Linked DNA regions of Homo sapiens: regions 1, 2, 4 and 5 are each linked to region 3. Evidence: fine-mapped expression QTL. A gene starts in region 3. Each other region holds a variant in brackets. All regions are shown on one strand. Distances are between the middles of the regions. Region 1 overlaps DPY19L3 (dpy-19 like C-mannosyltransferase 3). Region 2 overlaps DPY19L3 (dpy-19 like C-mannosyltransferase 3). Region 3 holds the start of DPY19L3 (dpy-19 like C-mannosyltransferase 3). Region 4 has its middle 86 kb from the start of DPY19L3. Region 5 has its middle 78 kb from the start of PDCD5.

Region 1 (5,107 bases), 59 kb after region 3:
GATGCCTGAAACCTCGGATGGTTTCACACCCTTTCTATACTATGTTTTTTTCCTATACATATATCCCTGTGATAAAGTTTAATTTATAAATTAATCATGGTAAGAGAATAACAATAATAATAAAATACAACAATTATAGCAACATGCCAGCATCACTTCTCTTGCACTTTGGGGCCTTAGTTATGTAAGATAAGGGCTGTTTGAACACAAACAATACAGGGACATTTAAATGTATCTTACTTTATTAGTAGTTTAGTAGCTGAATGTATCTGCTTGTCTGTCTCGGGTAGGTGGGTAGACTATACAGCGTGGAAACACAGGACCAAGGGATGATGATCTGAGTCTCAGGTGGGACAGACAGGGATGGAGAGATTTCATCATGCAACACAGAATAGCATGTAATTCAAAACTATGAATGGTTTATTTCTGGAATTTTCAATTTAATATTTTCGGACAGCAGTTTCCTCAATAACAAACCACTGAAAGTGAATCCACCGATAAGAGGGGACTACTGTGCATCATAACCCCGTGAAGTGTTCTTGCCAAAAAAATGAACTTGTGTCTGATAAACCTCTAGATCTAATTACAAGTTTACAAGAAGCATGAAACGTATAACCACCACTGTGAGCCACACCTGGGAGACGGGAACAGCTTCAGGACATATGTTCTCTATTCTTCCACAAACAAATGGCCTGTTTTTTAAAAAAAGGAGATACTTTTATAGATCAAAAGATATTTAAAGATATATATTAGTGAAATGCAACATGCAGTTCTTAGATCCTGATTCAGAGAAACCTGAAAAAAGCAATTGATGCAAACAGGGAAAATAGAACATGAACTAGGTATTAGATGATGTTAAGGAATTATTGTTACTTTTATTGGGTGTAATAATTTTAATGTAGCCGTATTTGGTAAAAGTCATCTTTTGGATATCAGGAGGTATTGGTAGGTTAAAAATGTGATTTTTGAGGGGTCATAAAGGAACTGAATTCCAAGTTAATGGATGTGTGTTTTGCTTTTGCTTATTTGTAAAAATTTGAAAAATACTCATAATAACTGGTAAAACATCTTTTAAAAATCTCTTTCAATTTCAGCAATTCCAAAAAATTTGAGTTTTTTTTTTTGCATTCTCTTTTAATTTAAAGAATTGAAGCACTTTAAATTTTTACTTCAAAGCTGCTGTGAAATTTCAGTTTTTCTCATTATTAATGCATTTATATTGTTACACTTTAGCCTCATAAATTCAAAATTGATCAATGCGAATTCATTTCATCTTATGGAAATAATCAATTTCTGAATACATAAAGGCATACATTTCTTGTATCTTCTTCTTTTACAAAGATCTAACTAAAATTATGTTTCCAGCTTAAATTTTGTATGTTGCTGTTTTACTCAGTGATTCTACAAATCAACAATCCGTGGGTAAAATGGAAAAAGGCACAGTTGACCTGAAACCAGAAACTGCCTACAACTTAATACATACCATTCTGTTTGGATTCTTGGCATTGAGTACAATGAGGTATTTTTGTCTTACCTGTTTGTTTACTTTTTATTTGATCACTCTTGATGTTACTTAGCAATATAATTTGGAAAGTGACAATCATCTTCATTAATGATCATGGTTCCCATAAAATCATCCTTATATCCTATCTTCTCTCAGTATAAAATACTCAACATCAGTTTTTACAATTAATTACAAACACGCCTCTATGTTTTACTCAAAGCATAGTCTTGAAAAGGCAGTGGAGTTAAACAACGAACCCTTCGGCAAATGGCATCTGCATAGTTTTAAGTAAGATTTTGCCGTCATAGACTGTAAAGCTGCCTTTATAGGTGTCTCAGAATCCAGGTTTATATACAACTAGTACTTCTGACTTGCGCCTGTGTCTGTTCTTGCAGAATGAAGTACCTCTGGACGTCACACATGTGTGTGTTCGCATCATTCGGCCTATGTAGCCCTGAAATATGGGAGTTACTTCTGAAGTCAGTCCATCTTTATAACCCAAAGAGGGTCAGTGTCATCCCTTTTTCCATCTCCTTTTATGACTTGCAGTATTTCTTTCATACCACTTCTTTTTTTGTTTTTCAGTAGCTGTGAGATAAAATGGATACTGAAATTGAAGCTGAAAATACATAATTGATATATTAAGATTTTATAGGGAATTATTTTAAAATAATTTTATTTTAAAAAATTACTTTTTTCTCAGACTATAAGTTAGATATGTTCATTATACAGAATTTGGAAATACAAAAAAAAGCACAAAAGGGGAATTAAAATTACCAATAATCCCCTTGTCCGGAATTATAACTGTTGTTATTATAATGTATTTTCATAAAGATAATTATTTATATATGTATGACAATTTTTCAGTAGCCTATAAATGCAGTTTTGAATTGTTCTACTCCATAAATTCACTAGGTGGCAATATAGTAGAAGCTGCAGATATCTTACAAATGATTAGAATCCTAGTATCGACTCAGTTATTCTGCATATTGGAGACTTGTGCTCCATTAAATTATATTTCTGGTA[A/T]TTTTTTAAGGCATATATTTACAAAGCAAAACTGTAAGGCAGAAGTGTTTAAAAAAGCCGGGCACAGTGGCTCACTCCTATAATCCTAGCTGCTCAGGAGGCTGAGACAGGAAAATCACTTGAGCCCAAGAATTCCAGGCCAGCCTAGGCAAACATAGCAAGACCCTGTCTCTCAAAAAAGAAAAGGTTCAAAATACTTATAATCTAAATAATGTCTTTCTTATATAGATATGTATAATGCGATATTCAGTACCGATATTAATACTGCTGTATCTATGCTATAAGGTAAGACTGATTTTCCTCATTCTTGTCATTCATGTATTTAGCAGAATAATTGCTTTGATTCAATATATTTTGTGTATTATTTGGCAAATAGAGTGGTTTGTGAAGGTTATAAATACCTCCTTAGCTTCTTACTGAAGGTGACATTGATGGGAAAATGGATCTTTTTCCCAAATAGTTTTAACAAGTAAAAACATGATAGCGAAAACTACTATAGCATTTAATAATTCTAATTAATTTTGATTTAGACTCTTAATATTCAGCTGATGCAAATTCTGAAAATAAGGTGTTTTCAGACCTATTTTGAAATGAAAGTAGGAAAATTATTTTCCCATTACCTGATTTATATAGACTAAGAGATTTTTAAATGTATCTTACTTTAAGCTCCATATTTTATTAGATGCTTATCTTCATAAGAGAATTAGACACATAAATAAACACAGCCTAAGGCTAGGCTTTTTAAAATCTGTTCTTCAGTATCAATAGGAAGTATCTGGATTTTTCATATTCTCATTTGACTAGTTTCTGAAACAGCATGAACTGCCCTTTAATTCAGAGAATTTCTTATCAGAGACAATGATCATTGGTCAGGTTGACTGTGGCTTTTTGTCACATCTTTGACATTGGCAGTCTTGAATCATCACTAGGGCAGATAGCACAGACTGTTTTATCCAATTGAGCTTCTGCCCTCTCTTTTTAAAGAACCTAACATATTAAGTTTATATTTTTTTTCCTTTAAATTTTACTTTAAGTTAAAACGACGGATTTCAAACTCTACTGTGTAGAACCCCTGATTTGGGAGGGTGGCTAAAAGCAGGGGTGATGGGACCTCCCGCAGAGAGGATCAGCTAGAGCAGCTCAGCTTTGGGGTTTATTTGCTTATATTTTCATGTAGGATTTTGTGAACCAAAGGTTTCAGGCTAAAGAAAATATTGCTAAATACTATATTGTAAATATTTCAAAAAAATGTGTTCTGTTATGAGCCTGTCTATCAAAACATTTACCATTAGCAAAACTCTGTGCTAACTCCTAGATATTAAAAAACACACAAATAGATTTATGCCTCCCCACCTCTGGGAATTTTATTGCTCTAATGCGAATAACTGAAACTTACTAAAAACATCTAGACACGAACAGTTAAGGATTAAACAGTATATGTTACTGAGGAGTCCTGTCAGTTTACCTTTACACAATGATTCAGTGGATTAAAGCACCCTCCTCACAGAAAAGATAAAGCTCATGAATGTTTTTCTCACCACTGAAGATGTACCGAACAATAACCATCTTTCATACTGCCCGTGTGCATGTAGGTTCAGTTCTTTTATGTCTCAGCTATCTATTGAAATTTTACTGATTTTTTTAAGCTATTTGAGGACTGAGGTGTTTTGTTCGTAATAAAATTGAGGAAGGACATTGTATAAGAAGTAAACTGTCCTAGGGAGCATTGATTCTTGAAGCGTGGTCCTCAGATAAACAGCATCAGCGTCTCTTGGGATCCTGTAAACATGCATGTGTTTGGGTCCCACTCCAGACCTACCGAATCAGAAGCCTGGGAGTCCAGTACAGAAATAGGCATTTAACCAGCCCCCCAGTTTTAAGAACCCCCTGCTGTAGCGGTCACAGGGTTTCTCAGCAGTGGCACATTGACACTTGGGCCAGAGAATTCTTTGCCGCTGGGGGCGGGGGCGGTCCTGTGTGCTGTAGGCTGCTCTGCGGCAGCTTCAGCCTCTGCCCGCTCATTGAAGCACGTCTCCCCTGGCTACAACCAAAAATGTCACCAGACATTGCCAAATGCCCTGGGGCTGGGGCTAGGGGCACAATGTCTCCCCTTACTCATCTTGAAAACCACTGCTATAAAAGAACTGGGACAGCTAAAGAAGCCATCATCTCCAGGAAATCCTGTTGCAGGTTTTCCCTGAATAAGGGAGTTAGTATCCTGAGGAATCCTCCAAAAGACTGTTGGCCTAGTCTCTCTTGATACAGGAGTTTAGGAGAAATCCTAATGCATTCAGCTTTCACTGTATAAAATAGTTCAGATATTTCATCTCCACAAAACTTACATAAAATCACAGAGAAAATTAAGATGGTATGGGTATGAGGGGTTACCCTGAAACTGAATCTGTTTTCCAACTATTCCAGCTCTTACAGACTTACCTGTAAGTAATGTGAATTCATATATTTCAAAGCCTGATTTCAGTTTTACATTGCAATTGTAGTTAGAGTTTCAAAATTTCTTGTTCATACTACCAATTTTGCTGTATTTCTCTTTAGTATAAGCATATTAAAAGGGAAAAA
Region 2 (5,102 bases), 76 kb after region 3:
TGTAGGACAACACAGTTGTCACAGTAACAGCATCCTACCTCCCTACCATTTCACCCATCCATGTGGACACATCAAGTTAGACCCTCAAGCCCAAATCAGAAATCTAGCACTCGAAATCAGGGTGCAACAAAGGAGGCAGTGCCTCTCTTCATGAACCCCCACATTCAACACCTCACACAGCCTGTTTCCATTCCAGCCCCAGAATCTGGGACGCTCAGTTTGCATCCATCCACTGAGGGTGTGTGGCACTGGTATGAACGTGAAGGGGGCCTCCTGTGGCGTTGCCCACGGTGTGCTGCAAGTGGCTCTCACCCCTAGGATGGACGAGAGGGAGAGGAGCAGTGGGGTCTCTCAATTAGCTGAGATGCGGAGTAGCAGGTAAAGCAGCCAATGCTGCCCCAGCCTAGGAGCAGAGACCCTACAGGGATCCTTCTCCCCACCTACCAGTTTCAGAAGCTGGGGCTCTGCCTTATTGGGACGTGTGTCCCTCAGACTGTCCCATCACCCTTAATGGGCCATTTTAGTCTGGGGGTCCCCTTTTTAAAGGTAGAGACTGTGTCTTATTTACTCAGCCCTGTCATTTACCTTGGGAAAGCAGTCTTAGAATTGGTGCCTACTGATGAATATAGTCCTGACTTGAAGTAATACATTCTGAATCCAGATGTGTTCTTCCTGGCTCACTCTCTTCCCAAGGCCGAGCACTCACAGCGTTCTGGGAACTTCCACGCACACACTCCAGGCCTGCAAATGAGCGAGTGCAGCGTGGCCTGGGCTGGAGAGAGCACCTTGGGTGTTAGGTCTTAGACTCAGCCCTGTGGAAGGTTACATCACATAGTTAACTCCCTGGCAGTCAAGTAGCATTTGCCACATTGCATTTTTATGTCTTTTTGAAGGTTTATCAGATATATGCCAAGAGGGCACCAGAGGAAGTGCATGCCCTCCTAAGGTCCTTCGGCACTGACTACGTAATCCTGGAAGACAGCATCTGCTACGAGCGGAGGCACCGCCGGGGCTGCCGACTCCGGGACCTGCTGGACATTGCCAACGGCCACGTGAGCATGCTGCCTCTCCCTGTGTGGGGGTCTCCTGGAGGGGCGGGACTCTGATTTGAATCCTAAGAATGTGAATCTTTTTATCCTTAATGTCTAGTTGAATTACGCTACGAATCAAGTATTTGCTTTTTCTCTTGCTTCCTACAGAAGCCCTCTCTTGGCACTTTAGTGACTGCCACCGGGGCTGGGCAAGGGAGAGGTGAGAGGGGAGCCCTGGGTCCCCAGTGTCACACCAAACAGAGCAGCTCTGCCTTCAGCTCATTTGTATGATGGGGCTCTGCATAAAATGTATCTGTGAAGGATTTTGCTGCTATAAACAAAACCTCAGCCTTTAAACCCACTGCTCCAACGCTTCGTATTGGCTAGCTGCTGCATGGCAGGGATGGTGGGGCCCTCCTGCCCTCCGGTCTAGGTGGTGGATTCCCCCTACCCCTCCTGCCCTCTCCTACTGAGTGTCCTGTGTCCACTGGTGTGTTTCCACAGGCCGGCTTTCAGAGGCTAAGTTGCACTCCAGAGCAGAAAAGCAGCAAGCCGCTTCTCCCTTCTCCCTTCTGAGGAAAGTGTTCTTGGAGCTATGCCAGGTCTCAGTAGAGCAAACAGATTTTCACCCTTTAGAGGTGTGATGTGTGCTGTAATTAATGGTATGAAAGCCAATAGATATTTGTAAACAAGTTGGACAAAGTGACAAACCTAGCCTAAATTTGAAAAAAAAAAATCTTGACTGTACAGAATTTGAGATTCAGATTTTTGCCCGAGGAGAATCATAGTTCATAACTGTCTTGAGTTCAGAGGTGGTACAGACCAGAGACATCCATTTAAATTTTGATTTGAGCGTGACTTTTTCAGTTATTTATTTATTTATTTATTTATTTTTAGAGACAGGGTCTCACTCTGTCACTCAGACTGGAATGCAGTGGCGTGATCTTGGCTTACTGCAGCCTCAACCTTCCAGGCTCAAGTGATCCTCCCACTTCAGCCTCCCAAGTAGCTGGGACCACAGGCATACATCACCATACCCAGCTAATTTTGTTTATTTTTTGTAAAGATGGAGTCTGGCTATGTTGCCCAGATGAGTCTCAGACTCCTGATCCAAGCGATCCTCCTGCCTCAGCCTCCCAAAGTGCTGGGATTTCAGGCATGAGCCACCACGCCTGGCCTAAATGTGACTTTTTCTGATGAGTTAGAGAGCTTTCTCTGATCACTGTAGTTCTCTGTATTTCATTTCTATGAGAGAGACAGTATAGTATGTTCCTGAGAGCAAGCAGACCTGAGTTCTAGTTCTGGCTTTCCCGTTAATGGGATCATCGTGTGAC[G/A]CTGCACTCTCCTTCTCAGCCTTGGTCTGCACTTCTGAAGGGGGAAAAGGATGGCCCTGATGATCTCCAGGTGCCCATGGACATTGAAATAATATAATTTAATTTCACTCACATACCATTCTTAAACCCAATACCCATTCCTGCTCCTACTGTCTTTTGTAAATAGAATTTTCCCCCCAAATTGTATTTGGGTTTGTTTTGGTTTTAGATGATGGATGGCCCAGGAGAGAATGATCCTGATTTGAAACCTGCAGACCACCCTCGCTTCTGTGAAGAGATCAAAAGAAACCTGCCTCCCTACGTGGCCTACTTCACCAGAGTGTTCCAGAACAAAACCTTCCACGTTTACAAGCTGTCCAGAAACAAGTAGCGCAGATTTCTGCCCAGTGTCTATTTTTGATACGGAGAAACTGCATCATGATGAAACTCAATAGATGACGTTTCCTATGTAAGTAGGTAGCCCAAACCTTCAAGCTGTGATATGAGTAAGTTCTACAGATGTTTACACAAGTGTTGCCATCTTTGAAAGCATCTTCTACAAGCAGAAGTCTTTTTCGTTGTGTGTCTATCTTTCTCATTAATGTTCTTTAGCCTAAATGTTAACAACTTTCTAAGAGTGACCTAGAATTATGTTGTTGGAGAGAATGATGTGTGTTCCATGGATACCTGGATAGGCACATAACATGTTGGAAGATGAGCACCTGCTCAGGATTTGAAATACGTTTAATTTTCAGGTGACTTAAGACAGCTATGATTGAATCAACTAGAGATGATGATCGACTTATTTAATATGATTTCACTGGTGAAGACCAATTGGTAGCTTTTTAAAAAGCACTTTAGTGTCCTGTTTTACCTTAAAATGTTATAATATTTTCCAGTTGTCATGCTGTCAACATTAACAAAAAAAATCATGTTAAGGCTTTGTATCAAACATTTTGTTACACTCTGTCTGAAATGTAATGTGGAGTACTTCAGCAGTATGTGTCATGTATTGTGTGTGTCTGTGTGTGTGCATGTGCACACATGTGTTTTAATGCTGGGCACAGAAAAGTGTTACAAGTTCCATATCGTAAGTCCTTAAAGGGGCAGAAATATATGTAGCCAAGTAGAATTTATTACATTTTAGTGTTATTATTTTAAAACTTACTGATACTCTTTAACCTCTCCTGCAGTAATAGTTTTGCTTTATTTCTTACTCATTTCAATTTATTGGGTTTGCAAAATTTTGTAAACTTTTTGTGTTTTTAGCCTTTGTATTTTTTACAGCCTAGAATCTTGCAAAGTCTGAATATTTTTTAAATGTTCTATCTTAACTAGTTCACTAATACAGTATTTTTAGCAGACAGCATTTTCAGACAGCATTTTCATACCAAGTTTGACTTGTGGTCTCCAATCTTACTGGGAAGGCCCTGGTAGTGTAATTCTTTTCCTTATTAAAAGGTAACCAAGTGCCTCTAAGTCATGCTTATTTGTAAACAACAAAGAAGAGTATATGTACCTGCTCAAAATTTTTTTGATAATCGCTTATATAATTAATTTCTAATGATGAGGACATGTAAAAGTTGCCAGTAAGAACATAGTATGCATTTAATTAAATCAAGATGGCTAATGGAATTAACTTTCTCCCCTGTTCTTGCCAGGTGGAAATGATTTAAGCATTTCTCCTTGCAGTTGTATTGAAGTAAATTACCATAGGCATCAAGATGGCTGCATCACATTTTCAAATGATTTTATATTCAGTTGCTACTTATAAAGCAGCATTCAAAAAGTCTTTTACACTGTCATGTTGGACACAAGCAGACTCAGCTTTTATCAAAACTTGTTTAAATAAAAAATTGACAGTAGCTGGGTTATTAAATTATGCAACTGAAACTCCTGAATTATATCTTTTCTGTATCCCTTAATAAGATTGGAGACCACTGCCGTTTAGGATAATACAATAATAAAACGTTTTAATCAGTACTAAAACTTTAATTAAGCCAATAATGATGCATGCCTGTTGTAGCTGACAGCATGGGTCAGTACATCCTTCAGCGAGTGCCTTACTCTAATTGAAACCAAGCACACGTAAGGTACAATATGTTAGACTCTGTGATTTTGTTTTCAAAATCCTCTGTTATGGCTATATTTAAATTTATTTTAAATATTCCTGTATGTATTCATCTAAGCATTTGGGCATTTGGAGTCTTAATATACAAGAAACACGTACTTAAATTTTTATGCTTATCACCGCAATGATGGCAAACAGTGATTTTTTTTTTCATAGTTTAGGTGTCATTGTTGCCAGCACCTTTAGTGCTCAGTCTTCAGTGAAAAATATAAAGTGCCAAAAAAATCTTGCAAGACAGAATCCATACTTAACACTCTTTCCAAGACACTGTGACCATGTACAGTAGCTATTTCCTGATGACCAAATCTCTCAACGAATCATGTTATTAATAAATATTTTTAGCACTCATCAGTATTCTCCAATGTGACCTTCTCATTGGAGTACACAGAAGGAAAGCAAAGAAGAGCATCTGACTTCTAGCTCTGGCTTACAGCCTCTCTACCAGGCCGAAGCAAGAGACCCGCGGCAGCAGCTCCCCGCCACTCAGACCTGGGTGGTGATAACCTCAAAGAATGGCTCTGTTTTCTATTGACAGAAAACCCACTTGATTTTGCTTCTGAGTTAGCAGTCAGAAGACCCTCTAAGTACAATAGAAGTGCTCTTAACGGACTCTGCCTGTGTGACTCC
Region 3 (5,107 bases):
CTGCTATAAAGGATACTGCTACAAAGAATGCCCAAGACTGGGTAATTTATAAAGGAAAGAAGTTTAATTGACTCACAGTTCAGCATGGCTGGGGAAGCCTCAGAAAACTTACAAACATGGCAGAAGGCAAAGGGGGAAGCAAGGCACTTTCCTCACAAGGAGGCAGGAAGAAGTGCTGAGCGAAGAGGCAAGATCCCCTTATAAAACCATCACATCTTGTGAGAACTCACTATCATGAGAACAGCATGGGGGAAGCTGCCTCCATAATTCAATTACCTCCACCTGGTCTCTCCCTTGAAAGGTGGGGATTATGGGAATTACAATTCAAGATGAGATTTGGGTGTGGACATAAAGCCTAACCATATCAACTTCTTAAAGATTAGTGGTCCCCTAGCCCTACAGATTCTAAATTGAGTAGGCGTGGGGTAGGGCCTGATAACATGCATTTCTTAACAACCTCCCAAGTGATGGTGACAGTGACGCTGCAGATCCCCAGACCACACTTTTGAGATGCACAGCACAACTATTTGTGGCCCTGGCAGAGACAACCAGGGAGACTATTTAGGCTTCTAAACCTACTGCAAACCGGAAGTCTTGCTATATACCACCACTGCAGTCACAGTCCATTACAGGAGCCCATTCCTTTTATAGTACCTCCCTGGCTCCGGGCTCATATGGCCAGAAGTGTGAGCAAGGACCTACACTCATTATCCATCACCTCCATGGTTACTTTATCAGAACCAAAGACTCATTCTTAATTGGCTTATTCTCCCCAAGACTTACTCTCAGCAGTAGGTCCTACTTAGGAAAAGTCTCAAAGCTTCATCTTGCTTAGGAATGTCTTTTCATAGTATTAAAAAAAGCAGCTACTGCTGAATTCTACTTTCTTTTTAACTAAGCGATGATATTTCACAATGGTCACATTTCCCCCAGAGTGAAACAACTTGAGAGAAAAAAAAAAACCTATAAAATAAGAGGGAAATCCTATTTAAGGGGAACTCAATTCACCTATGTATTCATGAAACAGACACATGCACATAAAGGCATCTTAACGTGAAAAATAAACATACAGTCCTTGCCCTCAAGCCAGGCGACAGAAAAGCTACCAACAACCAGGCTGAAACAAGACAAATGCCATCTGAAAAAACAGCTGACATTTGTTTCTATCAAAGCCATCCAGCAGATACCTCAACATCTTTCCACAGAACGTGTGCTCTTTACTAACAACCGACACACAAAGGAGGACGATCTCCAACAGAGGTGACTAGGAAAGGCTTCCTGGATGGCGTAATTTAGTGTTGGAGTCAGACCAATGAGCCGCCTTTTCACGGGTGGAGGTCCCAGATGGCCATCCCTTTAACAAAAATCAATTAACATGTAAATTATGTACTGACAAATACAACGTTTGATGGGCCCGCTGCAGTGGCTAAAGCCTGTAATCCCAACATTTTGAGAAGCTGAGGCAGGAGGCCTGCTTGAACTCAGGAGTTTTAGACCAGACTGGTCAACACAACGAGACCCCATCACTATAAAAATTAAAATGAATCTCAGCTACTCAGGAGGCTGAGGAAGCAGGGTCACTTGGGCACAGGGGACTAAGGTTGCAGTGAGCTACGATCACACCACTGCACTCCAGCCTGGACGACAAAGCAAGACCCCCATCTCTACGAAAAATTTAAAAATTAGCTGGGCATAGTAGTGCGAGCCTGTGGTCCCAGCTACTCCGGAGGCTGAGGCGGGAGGATCGCTTGCGCCCAGGAGGCCGAGGTTGCAGTGAGCCGTGATAGCACCACTGCACTCCAGCCTGGGCGACAGACTGAGAGCCTCACCTGTAAAAAATAATTTTAAAAAAGGTTCCACCTAGTGTTTTCCGTGGTGTGACTAAGAAAAGTATCTAGAAATAAAGCACAGTCAGTACCTGCTCTCAAAAAACGGCTGCCAATCTAGTTTGGAGACAGAAAAATATACCCGACTGAGAACACAGAGGAGCCTGTTTTCGGAAGAGGGGCGTCTTTGGAGACGCAAAATCCTCTCCGCGGGACGCTGACGGGCAGTCGGTAAAGGACTTCCAAGCACTGGTCAGTGACAATCGGGCGCTGGGGCTTTGCCAAGGCCCGGAGGCGGCGCGCCAAACCGGGCAATGCGGGAAGCGGGGCAGGCCCGAGTGGCCCTACTGCTGCCGTCCCTACTGATCCCTGCGCATCCGCCACAGAGCAGGGAACGGCAGAAAGGAGGAAGGAGGGGGAGTTCCGTAAATCAGGCCCTCAGGGGCTCCCAGGCCCGCACCCCTCTCAAGCCCCGGGGACCACCGCGGAGCCGCTGCTCCGGGCCGTGCGGCTCGAGGCGAACCTGCCTCAGAGCCGCCGGGCCCTCCTATCCCGAGCCGTATCTCTAGCTCCGGCCTGAGGTGGCCGGCGACTGCGTGCGCAAACACAAGATCCGCACCCCACTCCCCGCCACTGCAGCTCCGCGGCCGCGCTCAGAGTCTCCGGAACAGACCGGACTCAATGCGGACCAGGCAAGCGGAAGTGTGCCGCTTCCTTCCGGCCAGCGCAGCACGAGACGAGGCGGGGAACCGCGGGAGGAGGCGGGGCCTAGTGTTGACGAACAGCTCCCGGGGCCTATGGGCGCGGGGGCAGCCGCCCGGCCTCTCCGGCGCGCCCCCTCCCCGGGGCTGTTGACGCCCCCCAGCCCCTCATTTCCACAAAGCTCCGCGGCGGTTCTGCCCTCCTTGTACCCGCGGCGCGCTGCGGCCCGTGGCGCGGCCCCGTTCCCGCCTAGCCCCGTCGGCCTCCTTCCCCTCCCGGAGCCGCGCGTGAGGACGGCTGAGGCCGCAGGTCTGTGGCGGCGCGCCGGGACGCGCGGGCGAGGGTCTACCGAGAGGGCGGGCGGGCGCCGGCGGAACCCTCGGCTACAGCCCCGAGCCCCTGGGGCCGCCCCTCCCCGCCGCGTGGCGCAGTCGGGGGGCGCGGCCGCGGCGTCGGGGCGTCGGGAGGGGCGGAGCGCGGGAGTGTCTGCCGGGACGCGGGCCGGGCTGGGCTCCGGAAGGACCAAGTTTGCGGAGCGGCTTCTGCTCGTCGGCCGTGCGGCGAGGCAGGGCCTGGGCTGCGACCCCGGCGGCCGCTCGCGGTCTTGGGAGAGCTGGGGCGCGTGCCTGAACTTCCCGGCTGCCCCTGTCCTTGGAGACCTACCTGATGGGGACGCCAGGTGTGCAGGGGCGTGGCGCGTAGGTAAGCGGACCCGGTGCCTGCCTCGTCCAGGGGATGCTCACTAGAGCGCTAGGCTTTTTTATTTTTATTTTTTAGAGACAGGGGTCTCGCTGTCTCGCCCAGGCTGGAGTGCAGTGGCGTTATCACGGCTCACTGCAACCTCGAACTCTTGGGCTCAAGCGATTCTCCCACCTCAGCCTCTGGAGTAGCTGGGACCACAGGCATGCACCACCGAGCCTGGCTATTTTATTGTATAGATAGGGTCTCGCTCTGTTCCCCAGGCTGGTCTCAAACTCATGGTCTGAAGTCATCCTCCTGCCTCAACCTCCCAAAGCGCTGGGATTACATGAGCCGCCTCGCCCGGCTAGCGCTAGTCGTCCTTATTAATAAAGAATCGCTTCTGGTCCCTTTTCAGTTGTTTACAATGGCATTCCTTTTGATCTGATGGAGGAACTTTTTTTCTTAGTTCATGGGACTGTTGCAGTGCCTGACACATAATTGGTACTTAAATATGTGTTGGTTTTCTGCCTTAACATATTAGAATATATGAATTGTTTAAAAAAGTCCTCTCACACTTAGGGAGGACTCTAGGATGAGGTCACATGGGGGATAAGCCCATCTGTGGCTGTAGGACTTTGTTAAACACTCCTCTTCTCCCTCTCTGTTCCAGATTCTCCATTTCCAGTGCTTGAAAGCACAGTACTTAAATCTGGCTTCCTGCTTTTTTTTTTTTTTTTGGTATGAATGAATACATGAATTGTATAATGTTAGTTGGTTTGTTCTGTAGAGCAAGTTACCCTTAGGAATTAATAAACTGTGGAAACAATCATGTCAGGCTACTAGTCACATTTAAGAAATAATTAGTAAGAGGCTGTTCATTATTCAGAGGAGTGAAGCAAGATGTTCTGGAGGACTGGAACCCGCTTACTCACTGCCACCACTCCCCCGCCTCCCACTTGCTGCTGCCAAACCAGGCTCCTGCTCCCCCCCACCCATTACTCCCACCGACGCTCCCTGGGATAGCAGCTGCCCTGATTGGCACACCCCCGCAGTCATCACCACTGAGGCGTATTCCTGAAGCTGCCAGTGTGAATTGTTTTATAGAACACTGGTGTTAAAATTCAGGTACCTGAGACAAAACAATATTTTAATTCTTCAAAATCCGGTTGTCAACACATTTACTATGGAGTATCTCCCACGTGGCCACTTCTGTGGGAGGTACTGAAGACCTACTACCGCCTATGGAAGTAGAAAATAATATACAACTGTGTAGTTACGTGACGCATTGCGTGGTAACTGCTATGGCTCAGGGAGGGAGAAGATCAGCCGGAACTGGAATGTCCCAAGATGTTCTGGAAGAAAAGCAGTGGCTCGTTTGTGTTGCTTACCTGTATTCCTGACTCCTGGCAGGGCCTGCTGTAGAGCACATGCTTCATGAATAAATATGATTGAGTTGAATAAATATTTGAATTGTGTTTTGAGTGTAGCTTTGAAGGCCAGCAACGATTTAGATGGCAAGATCGAGGGCAGGCTGGGCACAATGGCTCATTCATGTAATCCTAGCACTTTGGGAGTCCAAGGCGGGGAGGATCGCATGAGGCCAGGAGTTCAGTACCAGCCTGGGCAAGATAGGGAGACCCCATCTTTACAAAAAATAATTAGCCAGGTGTAGTAGCACATGCCTGTAGTCCAGATACTCGGGAGGCTGAGGTGGATCACCTGAGCCTGTGGAAGTAGAGGCTACAGTGAGCCGTGATGGTGCCGCTGCACTCCAGCCTGAGTGACAGTGAGACCCTGTCTTGGGGGGAAGAAAAAAAAAGGGAGGGCATGCTAATAGAGGGAAAATGGCATAAGTAAAGGCATTTCAGCATGGATGAGCACGGGGTGTGTTGGGGAGA
Region 4 (5,107 bases), 86 kb after region 3:
TCCAGTTACTGTTTTAAGAGTTTTTCGGCCGGGCGTGATGGCTCACGCCTGTAATCCAGCACTTTGGGAGGCCGAGGCGGATGGATCACAAGGTCAGGAGATTGAGACCATCCTGGCTAACATGGCGAAACCCCATCTCTACTAAAAATACAAAAAATTAGCCAGGCATGGTGGTGGGTGCCTGTAGTCCCAGCTACTCAGGAAGCTGAGGCAGGACAATGGCATGAACCCGGGAGGTGGAGCTTGTAGTGAGCTGAGATCGCACCACTGCACTCCAACCTGGGCAACAGAGCGAGACTCCGTCTCAAAAAAAAAAAAAACAAAAAGTTTTTCACCTGGATTAAGTCAGACCCACCCAATATAATCTCCATTTTTGTTAGCTCAAAATCAGCTTGTTTGTGACCTGAATTACATCTGCAGAATCCTTTCGCTTTTGCTATATAGCCTCGCCTAATTACCTAAATAGGAGTGGCATTTATATTCATAGGCTCATCCACACTTAAGGGGAAGGGCTCTGCAGGGCATGTTGTTCAGGCAGTGGGAATCTTGGGGGCCATCTTAGAATTCTTCCTACCACAGACAGTTTAAAAGAACAGGGTCTGGGCCAGGCATGGTATCTCACGCCTGTAATCCCAGTGCTTTGGGAGGCCAAGGCAGAATGATCACTTGAGGTCAGGAGTTCAAGATTAGCCTGGGCAACATAACAAGACCCCATCTCTACAAAATATATTTTTTTCAAATTAGCCATGAGTGATGGCACACACCTGTAGTCCCAGTTACTCAGGAGGCTGAGGTGGGAGGATCCCTTGAGCCTAGGCGTTTGAGGCAGCAGTGAGCTATGATTGCATCACTGCACTCCAGCCTGGGCAACAGAGCAAGACCTTGTCTCTTAAAAAAAATGTAAAAATAAAAGAATAGGGCCTGGCGATAACTGAGTGGCAATGGTTAACATAGGGCTTTTGTAAACTTTGACAGAAAGGAGAAACACAAGGTGAATCCCAGGGTTACCCAGGCTTTCTCCCTTAGAGGATTTTCCAAACTGTGGCACAGGAAAATGGAGCCCAAGCAGAGTATGTCAGGCTTTCTGGAGGAAGCAGATTGGAGTTGATAGCTGCTGAGGTGGCTGGGGTTTGGCAGGGGTTGGAGGGGCAGAGCACCAGAGAGGAGGGAGTTGGAATAAAGAAAACCTAAGAATTTCCCATTGGGTCCTTGGTCAGTTCCTAGCCTGCAGAGGCTTAGCAGAGAACATCTGGTCAGTGGCAGAGCTGAACAGAAATTTCAGAGGTTACACAATCCCGAGGAGACACTGGAATTTGGGTCCAGCTGGGGCTGAGAGACCACGGTCAATCTCCCAGGCATTCAGCTGAGACTCTGGAGAGACTATACCTTATCCTGGGAGTAGAGGCTGTTATCCCAATTGCCTGCCAGAAACAAATGTAAATCTGCTATGAAGGATGATAGCCTTATTCATGGCTTCAAATTGTCTTTACACTTTTTATATACACAATGTAGCACTCAATAAAATAATCAGGAATAATTTTTTAAAACTGAGACCAAGTGTGGTGGCTCACACCTGTCATCCCAGCACTTTGGGAGGTCGAGAAGGGAGGATCACTTGAGCCCAGGAATTTGACAGCAGCCTGGACAACAAGGCGAAACTCTGTGTCTACAAAAAATACAAAAACTGGCCGGGCGCGGTGGCTCACGCCTGTAATCCCAGCACTTTGGGAGGCCAAGGCGGGCGGATCACGAGGTCAGGAGATCGAGACCATCCCGGCTAAAACAGTGAAACCCCGTCTCTACTAAAAATACAAAAAATTAGCCGGGCGTAGTGGCGGGCGCCTGTAGTCCCAGCTACTTGGGAGGCTGAGGCAGGAGAATGGCGTGAACCCGGGAGGCGGAGCTTGCAGTGAGCCGAGATCCCGCCACTGCACTCCAGCCTGGGCGACAGAGCGAGACTCCGTCTCAAAAAAAAAAAAAATACAAAAACTTACGTGTGGTGGCATGCGCCTGTAATCCCAGCTACTCAGGAGGCTGAGGTGTGAGAATCACCTGAGCCTGGGATATCAAGGCTGCAGTGAGCCATGATCATGTCACTATACTCCAGCCTGGTGACAAGAGTGAGAGCCTGTCTCAAAAAAACAAAAACAAAAAACATGACTGAAACAGAATTGAAGTAGAAACAGTGCCACAGGCAAATCAAATATTGCAGCCTGAAGCATAGACTTTAAAATAACTATGTTTATCATATTTAAGACTTTAAATGACAAGAAGGAGAATTTAGGTGAATAACTGAAAACTTTATAAAAGCAAAATGGAAATGCTAGAACTGAAAAATGCAATGAATTAAGTGTTCACTGTTGGGTTAGACACAGCTGAAGAGAGTTGATCAACTGGACAATAGGTTAGAAGAAAATATCCAGACTAAAATATTGTGGGCTGGGGAGAAGTTGAAAAACAAAGGAAAGGCTGTGTGTGGTGACTCACACCTATAATCCCAGCACTTTGAGAGGCCAAGGCAGGATCGGTTGGGCCTCAGGAGTTTGAGACCAGCCTGGGCAACATAGTGAGACCCGTTTTTTTTGTTTTGTTTTGTGTCGTGTTATGTTGTTTTGAGATGGAGTCTCGCTCTGTTGCCAGGCTGGAGTGCAGTGGCAAGATCTTGGCTCACTGCAACCTCCGCCTCCTGGGTTCAAGTGATTCTCCTGCCTCAGCCTCCCGAGTAGCTGAGACTACAGCTGCCCACCATGCCCAGCTAATTTTTG[C/T]ATTTTTAGTAGAGACAGGGTTTCACCATATTGGCCAGGATGGTCTCGATCTCTTGACTTCATGATCTGCCCGCCTTGGCCTCCCAAAGTGCTGGGATTACAGGCGTGAGCCACCGCACCCAGCCCTGTTTTTATTTAAAAAGAAAAAGGAGAGCATGGAGTATATTTTGGTATATTTTATGCCATTCTATAAGTGGTACTGGAGTCCCACAAGGAGAGGAAATAGAATGGGCCTGTATGACTTTGGGCATGCTACTCATATTCTTAGCTTCATGTCTTCTTTTGTAAATGGAGGTGTAATCATAATATACCTATTGGTTTGTGGGGTGGATTAAATGAGATAACATTTCAAGCACTAGGCCCAATATCTAGCACATGGTAAGTACATTAGATGAAAGCTGCAGGATTATTATCACAGTCGTCTTCAAAATTAGAATGTGAAAGAGAAAAGCATGAAGAGCAAAGTTACAGGTGAGTCTGACAGATACTAAAGAGCCCTTAGTAATTTTATGTTAACTATTCTTGCTGTAGAAAATATCTTTAAAAGCAAAAAGAAAAAAAAAAAGAAAACTTCAAGGACTGAGGAGGAGATTAAGAGAACAGTTTTATAGATAAATTAGTTTCTTAGTAATTCCTGAGGTGTGTATTTGCAACACAAGGAAATGGATTTGTGTTTGTGTCTCTGTGCGGGTGAGGAAGAGAGACAGAAAAATAGAGCCATGGACAAAGACCAAGAGAGACTGATTGATTGGATGTTCTTAGAGGAGACATTATCATTGTTGAAGATAAATGCCAAAGCCCTGCCAAGGTGCACATATTCATAAAGAAGTAGAAGGGGCTGATTGTGCGTGAATCTGCTTAAGAAAGGGAAAGGAGTGAAGGAACATGATTTCAGGACTAGCCCGGTAATTAGAACTGCAGTGAGCTAATTAAGGCTCATAAATTTAATGAAACTATTAGCATTTTCTCTTGCAAGAAAAGGTATATGTTTTCTCTCAGGAAATGACACCTGTGAACAATTATCTCTCATTTCTATTAAGATTATTTACATAAGTTTTGCTCATTTGGCACTCACTGCTGTTAATTATTATTTTTTATTTTTTACAACACCTGATATCACACTAGATTCACTCTGTAGGAAGGTGCTTTGGGGGTTACTGATAATTAATAGTTTAGCACAAATAGACAAGACCATTGTTAGGGGACCTGCTGTACTGTTACTGTGCTGTCTTTGTGGGCAGCCTTTTTGTTTAATAGAAAATGTTTCAGAATCTTTGAATATCTGTAAGAGCCTGGTAGATTATGAAAATTATGAACACAACCTTTCCTAGGCCATCATGTAACTCAATGGTTTCTTCAGTGAGAACTTCCTGAGTACCTACTGTATGCCAGAGGAAGAGGTGAGAAAAGGGCGTGAGGATAGGTTTATGATATAAACATGAATTCAAAATATCCTATTATTGCACTGAATTGAAATGGATATGATGACCTCTAAGGGAAAGCCAAGGGTGTATCATTTAGGAAATTTCAAATTGCAAGTGTAAACCAAAAGTATCTGAGATAAGTCTTCATTTAGAAAGTTTATTTTGCCAATGTTAAGGACACACCATGACACACAGCCTCAGAAGGTCCTGATGACATGTACCCAAGGTGGTCGGGGTGCAGCTTAGCTTTATACACTTTATGGAGACACGAGACATCAGTCAGTACATGTAAGATGTACACTGGTTGAGTCCAGAAAGGTGGGACAACTCAAAGTGGGGGGCTCCCAGGTCATAGGTAGATTTAGAGATTTTTCTGATTGACAGAAAGAGTTACTGTCAATAGAAAGGAGTGTCTGAGTTACAGTAAGGGACTGTGGAGTCCAAGGTTTTATCATGCAGATGAAGCCTCTAGGTAGCAGGCTTCAGAGAAAGTAGATTGTAAATGTTTCTTATCAGACTTAAAGAGTCTGTTCTATCCATAATTCCCAAAGTACGGAGGGTGTAATGAAGCATGTCTAGTTCCCCCTTCCCATCATGGCCTGAACTAGCTTTTCAGGTTAACTTCAGAATGCCTTTGGCCGAAAGAGGGGTCCATTCAGGTGGTTGGGGGGCCTTAGAATTTTATGTTTGATTTACACAAGTTTCGGAAAACCTAACCCAAGTTGTCTTACATAAAGGGAATGTTTTAGCACATTTAACTTTTTTAGGCCTTTAGGTAAGGCTTAATCTGATATCCTAGTAATTAGATTTATTCAATTAATATTTGTTGAGACCTAAAAGGCCTTGGGAATACATTAGTGTCTAAGACATTCCGTATTCTCATTGAGCTTACATTTTAGTAGAGGATACAGACAACAG
Region 5 (5,107 bases), 98 kb after region 3:
TTTGTATTTTTAGCAGAGACAGAGTTTCACTATGTTGGCCAGGCTGGTCTCAAACTTCTGACCTCAGGCGATCCACCCACATCGGCCTCCCAAAGTGCTGGGATTACAGACGTGAGCCACTGTGCCTGGCCCATTTTTTCTTTTTAATAAAAGTCTTTAGGCCAGGCACAGTGGCTCATGCCTATAATCCCAGCACTTTGGGAGGCCGAGGCCAAAGGATCACTTGAGGCCAGGAGTTTGAGACCCCCCACCAAGCAATGTAGTGAGACTCATCTCTACAAAAAAATAAAAATTAAAAATTAGCCGGGCATGGTGGCACATGCCCATGGTCCCAGCTACTAGGGAGGCTGGGGTGGGAGGATCACTTGAACCCAGGAGTTCGAGACTACAATGAGCTATGATCCCACCACTGCACTCTATCCTGAGTGACAGATGGAGACCCTGTCTCTAACAACACAAAAAAGTTTTTAGTCTGTTTAGAATTTAATTTAATCACTGACAGATACATTGGAGTCTACATACACTGTCTCACTGTTAGTTTTCTATTTGACCTGTTTTATATTCAGTTCACCCCTCTGTAAGCTTACATACTCTTTAATATTTTTTTCTGATTTTATGTTGAAATGGTGTCGAATTTATAGAAAAGTTATAAGAATTATAAAAAGAACCCAGATTCACTGATTTTTAACATATGACCATATTGGCTTTATCATTCTCTCAGCAGATTGATAGTTACAGGAAAACATTTATTATTATTTCTTCTGAATTATTTAGGTATATGCTGCATATATCATACCACTATGCCCTTAATTTTTCAGTGATTATTTCCTAAGAATAAGGGTATTCCTTTATATAACCACAATTATTTTACCAAATTTAGGAACTTTAACATCAACATGTAATAATCTATAGATCTAATGATGTAATCTAATGATATATATCTAATTTATAATATATATTCTAATGTAGTTAATTGCCCACAAAATGTTTATTATAGCAATTATTTTTCCAGTAGAGAATCCATTTTGGAATTGCATTTAGTTGTCAAATCTTTTTTTTTTTTTTTTTTTTTGAGACAGAGTCTTCTGTCGCCCAGGCTGGAGTGCAGTGGCACGATCTTGGCTAACTGCAACCTCTTCCTGAGTTCAAGCAATTCTCCTGCCTCAGCCTCCCGAGTAACTGGGATAGCAGGCACGCATCACCACTCACCCCTGTAATTCCAGCACTTTGGGAGGCCAAGGCGGGCGGACCAGTTGAGGTCAGCAGTTCGAGACCAGCCTGGCCAACATGGTGAAATCTCTCTCTACTAAAAATACAAGTCTTTTAAGTCTCCCTTAATCTGGAACAGTTCCTCAACCTTTCTTTGTCTTTCCTGAAATTTGTATATTTGAAGAATACAGACCAGTTATTGTATAGAATCTGCTACATTCCCGACTGGACTGCTACATAAATGATACTGTGTCCTCAGGTATCACACCTGGAGGCCCATAATATTCATGTTCCCTTATTCAATGATACTTTTTTTGTTTTTGAGATGGAGTTTTGCTGTTGTCACCCAGTCTGGAGTGCATTGGTGCAATCTCAGCTCACTGCAACCTCTTCCTCCCGGGTTCAAGCGATTCTCCTGCTTCAGTCTCCCAAGTAGCTGGGATTACAGGCATGCACCACCACGCCTGGCTAATTTTTCTATTTTTAGTAGAGACTGGGTTTCACTATGTTAGCCAGGCTGGTCTCGAACTCCTGGCCTCAAGTGATCCACCCATCTCAGCCTCCCAAAGTGCTGGGATTATAGGCGTGAGCCACCAAGCCCAGCTTCAATTGTTATTTGAACTAATTATTTGTCCTTCCTTTTAATCGTGGTTGTTACTCTTGTGAAATAGAGTTGAGTTTATTGGTTTCAGTTGGCATTTAGAGTTTTTCCCCATGTATACTGATCTAATTTTATTTATTTATTTTTACTATTTAGGACATTAACATCATGTAAGAGTGAAAACAATAAAAAAGACTCAAAGAATGTTGCTCCTTCCTCATTCCTGCTATCTCATCCTGCTCCTCTTGTACAGAATCCCTTCTTTTTTTTTTTTCGCTCTGTCTCCCAGGCTGCAGTGCAGTGGTGCAATCTTGGCTCACTGCAAGCTCCGTCCCCTGGGTCCAAGCGATTCTCCTGCCCCGAGCCTCCTGAATAAGCTGGGACTACAGGCGCCTGCCATCAC[A/G]AATGGCTAATTTTTGTATTTTTAGTAGAGACTGGGTTTCACTATGTTAGCCAGGCTGATCTTGAACTCCTGGCCTCAAGTGATCCACCCGTCTCAGCCTCCCAAAGTGCTGGGATTACAGGCATGAGCCACCATGACCAGCCATATATAATCCTTTTTATTCATTTCTGATTTACCCATTCTTTGTTTCTTTTTGCAAAAATCCGCTGATATGCATGTTTTATTATTTTTTTATTATATTATTTTCCATTTTTCTTTACACAAAATGAATATATTCTTTTGCACTTTTTACTTTTTGATAATATAATTATATATTATATAACTTATATAGTTATATATAATCATATGTAACATATATGATTATATCATATATGACATATGAATATATAATCATATATAACATATAAATCATATGTAACATGATTATATAAATAATATATAACATGATTTATTTAATATGTAACATACAGTTATATATAATCATGTAATTATACTATAATTATAATCATAATATGTTATACCATAATATATATATTATATATGTAACAATATAGTATAATTAAATTATTATATCTTACATACTATGCAATAACATACTATAGTATATAACTATAATATATAGTATAGTATAGTATATAGTATAGTATGTTATACCATAATATATATATTATATATGTAACATAATATAGTAGAGTTAAATTATTATATCTTACATACTATAACATATATAGTATACACTATACTATAACATATACAGTATAGACTATACTATAACATATATAGTATAGACTATAACATATATAGTATATAACTATACTATATAGTATAGTATAGTATATAGTATAGTATATAGTATAGTATGTTATACCATAATATATATATTATATATGTAACATAATATAGTATAGTTAAATTATTATAATATATCTTACATACTATACTATAACATATATAGTATATAACTATACTATATAGTATAGTATAACATATATAGTATATAACTATACTATATAGTATAGTATAGTTATATAGTATATAACTATACTATAACATAATATAGTATAGTTAAATTATTATATATTAGCATTCCATGTGGGTCCATAAATACACTGTTGTACAGATGTTATGCCCATTAACAATTATTGATATGATTGATCTCAATGCTCTCACATTGTTCTAATTACAGCGTGTATTATATTTACCCTGTTTCTCTATATGATGTATAAGTATCTCACATTCTACAATTATTTTTTATATTTTGGAAGCCTCATATTTTGTTTCACTGATTACCTTATTTATACCTTTGATGTTCTTCATTCAGCATAAACAAGAAAGCTCATCTGTTATCTACTCAACAATCATCGGTCATAGTCTACTTTTCTCCTTCTCCATTCTGCTCCAATTTTTAGTTGCATTCTTTCCACTTTGTCAGAAAATATTCCGTTTACATACTATTTCTCCACCATGTCTCCACTTGTTGTAAGTGTCTCATAATTACCTGAAGTGATAGAGCATCATTTCTAGGTACTTTGTATTAAAGATGGATCTTTATTATAAACTCACAGCCTCTCTCTGTCCCTCTCCCTGCCTTTCTCTTTTTCTCTCGGCATTTGTGCATGAAATATATATTAAACAAAGTACAGCTGCACAATTAAAAAGAAAGAAAAAAGAAACAACATATGGGATAAATGGAAAAGAAAGAGCAACATAGAACATCTAGAATTAAACTTATCAATAATTATATTAAATGCAATGATCAAAACTACGATTAAAAGGCAGATATCATCACATTGGATACAAAGCAAAACTTTAAAGAAGCACACTTTGAATAAAAAGGCATGGGCAGGTTTAAAATAAGTAGGTGCCGGGCACAGTGGCTCACGCCTGTAATCCCAGCACTTTGGGAGGCCAAGGGGGGTGTATGACCTGAGGTAGGAGTTTAAGACCAGCCTGACCAACATGATGAAATCCCATGTCTACTAAAAATTCAAAATTAGCTGGGCATGGTAGTGCATGCGTGTAGTCCCAGCTACTCAGGAGGCTGAGGCAGGAGAATCATTTGAACCTGGGAGGCAGAGGTTGCAGTGAGCCAAGATCACACCATTGCACTCCAGCCTGGACAACAGAGCAAGACTCCATCTTAAATAAATAAATAAATAAATAAAATAAGTGATGACACTAACAGTACAGGCAACAAAAGAAAAAAACAAATTGGACTGCATGAAAATTTAACATTTTGTACATTGAAAGACACTATCAGTAGTAAAAAAGCAACCCCACAGAATGGAAGGAAATATTTTCAAATCATACATCTGATAAGGGATTAATATCCAGAATATATAGAGAACTAAAATGAAGAAAAAAAATTCAAAAATGAGCAAAGGACTTGAATAGACATTTCTCCAAAGAAGATCTACAAATGACCTACAAGCATGTAAAAAGATACTCAACATCACTAATCTTTAGGGAAATGCAAATCAAAACTACAGTGAGATACCACCTCACACCCATTAGGATGGCTACTTTCAAAACAAAACAAAACAAAAAACCACACACACACACAGAAAATAACAAGTGTTGGTGAGGTTGTGGAGAAACTGGAACTCTTTTGCAATGTTGGTGGGAATGTAAAATGGTGCAGCCAGTACAGACAGCAGTATGACAGTTCCTCAAAAAATTAAGCAATGAATTTCAGCAATGAATGGGTACTTCTGGGTAATACCCCCCCAAATAGAAAGCAAGATTGCAAAGAGATATTTATACACCCATGTTTACAGCAGCATTGTTTATAGCAGCTACAATGTGGAAGCAATAGTATCCATCAACAAATGAATGGAAAAGCAAAATGTGATATATTGATACAATGGAATATTACTCAGCCTCAACAAGGAAGG

Evidence for each region. PIP is the estimated chance that this variant, and not a neighbour inherited with it, causes the effect. A credible set is the group of variants that fine-mapping cannot tell apart.
Region 1: its variant is the best candidate, but not a certain one, in a credible set for the expression of DPY19L3 in whole blood (INTERVAL, PIP 0.58).
Region 2: its variant is the best candidate, but not a certain one, in a credible set for the expression of DPY19L3 in sun-exposed skin (GTEx, PIP 0.52).
Region 4: its variant is the best candidate, but not a certain one, in a credible set for the expression of DPY19L3 in whole blood (INTERVAL, PIP 0.74).
Region 5: its variant is the best candidate, but not a certain one, in a credible set for the expression of DPY19L3 in whole blood (TOPMed, PIP 0.68).

The regions. Positions count from the first base shown.
Region 1 is chr19:32,461,970-32,467,076 of GRCh38, forward strand. It overlaps DPY19L3 (dpy-19 like C-mannosyltransferase 3), which reads left to right. Exons shown (of 19, transcript NM_001172774.2): 13 at 1,397-1,519; 14 at 1,900-2,011; 15 at 2,759-2,815. Among named protein-coding and RNA genes, the nearest start is that of DPY19L3, 59 kb to the left of the region's middle. The variant A/T (reference allele first, on the strand shown) is at 2,531.
Region 2 is chr19:32,479,506-32,484,607 of GRCh38, forward strand. DPY19L3 (dpy-19 like C-mannosyltransferase 3) reads left to right here. Exons shown (of 19, transcript NM_001172774.2): 18 at 894-1,052; 19 at 2,574-5,102. The coding sequence ends at 2,735. Among named protein-coding and RNA genes, the nearest start is that of DPY19L3, 76 kb to the left of the region's middle. The variant G/A (reference allele first, on the strand shown) is at 2,366.
Region 3 is chr19:32,403,073-32,408,179 of GRCh38, forward strand. It overlaps DPY19L3 (dpy-19 like C-mannosyltransferase 3), which reads left to right and starts at 2,698. Exons shown (of 19, transcript NM_001172774.2): 1 at 2,698-2,837. It overlaps DPY19L3-DT (DPY19L3 divergent transcript), which reads right to left and starts at 2,467. Exons shown (of 3, transcript NR_046201.1): 1 at 1,919-2,467. RefSeq lists silencers at 2,250-2,299, 2,330-3,079.
Region 4 is chr19:32,488,916-32,494,022 of GRCh38, forward strand. No RefSeq gene overlaps it. Among named protein-coding and RNA genes, the nearest start is that of DPY19L3, 86 kb to the left of the region's middle. The variant C/T (reference allele first, on the strand shown) is at 2,766.
Region 5 is chr19:32,500,754-32,505,860 of GRCh38, forward strand. No RefSeq gene overlaps it. Among named protein-coding and RNA genes, the nearest start is that of PDCD5, 78 kb to the right of the region's middle. The variant A/G (reference allele first, on the strand shown) is at 2,214.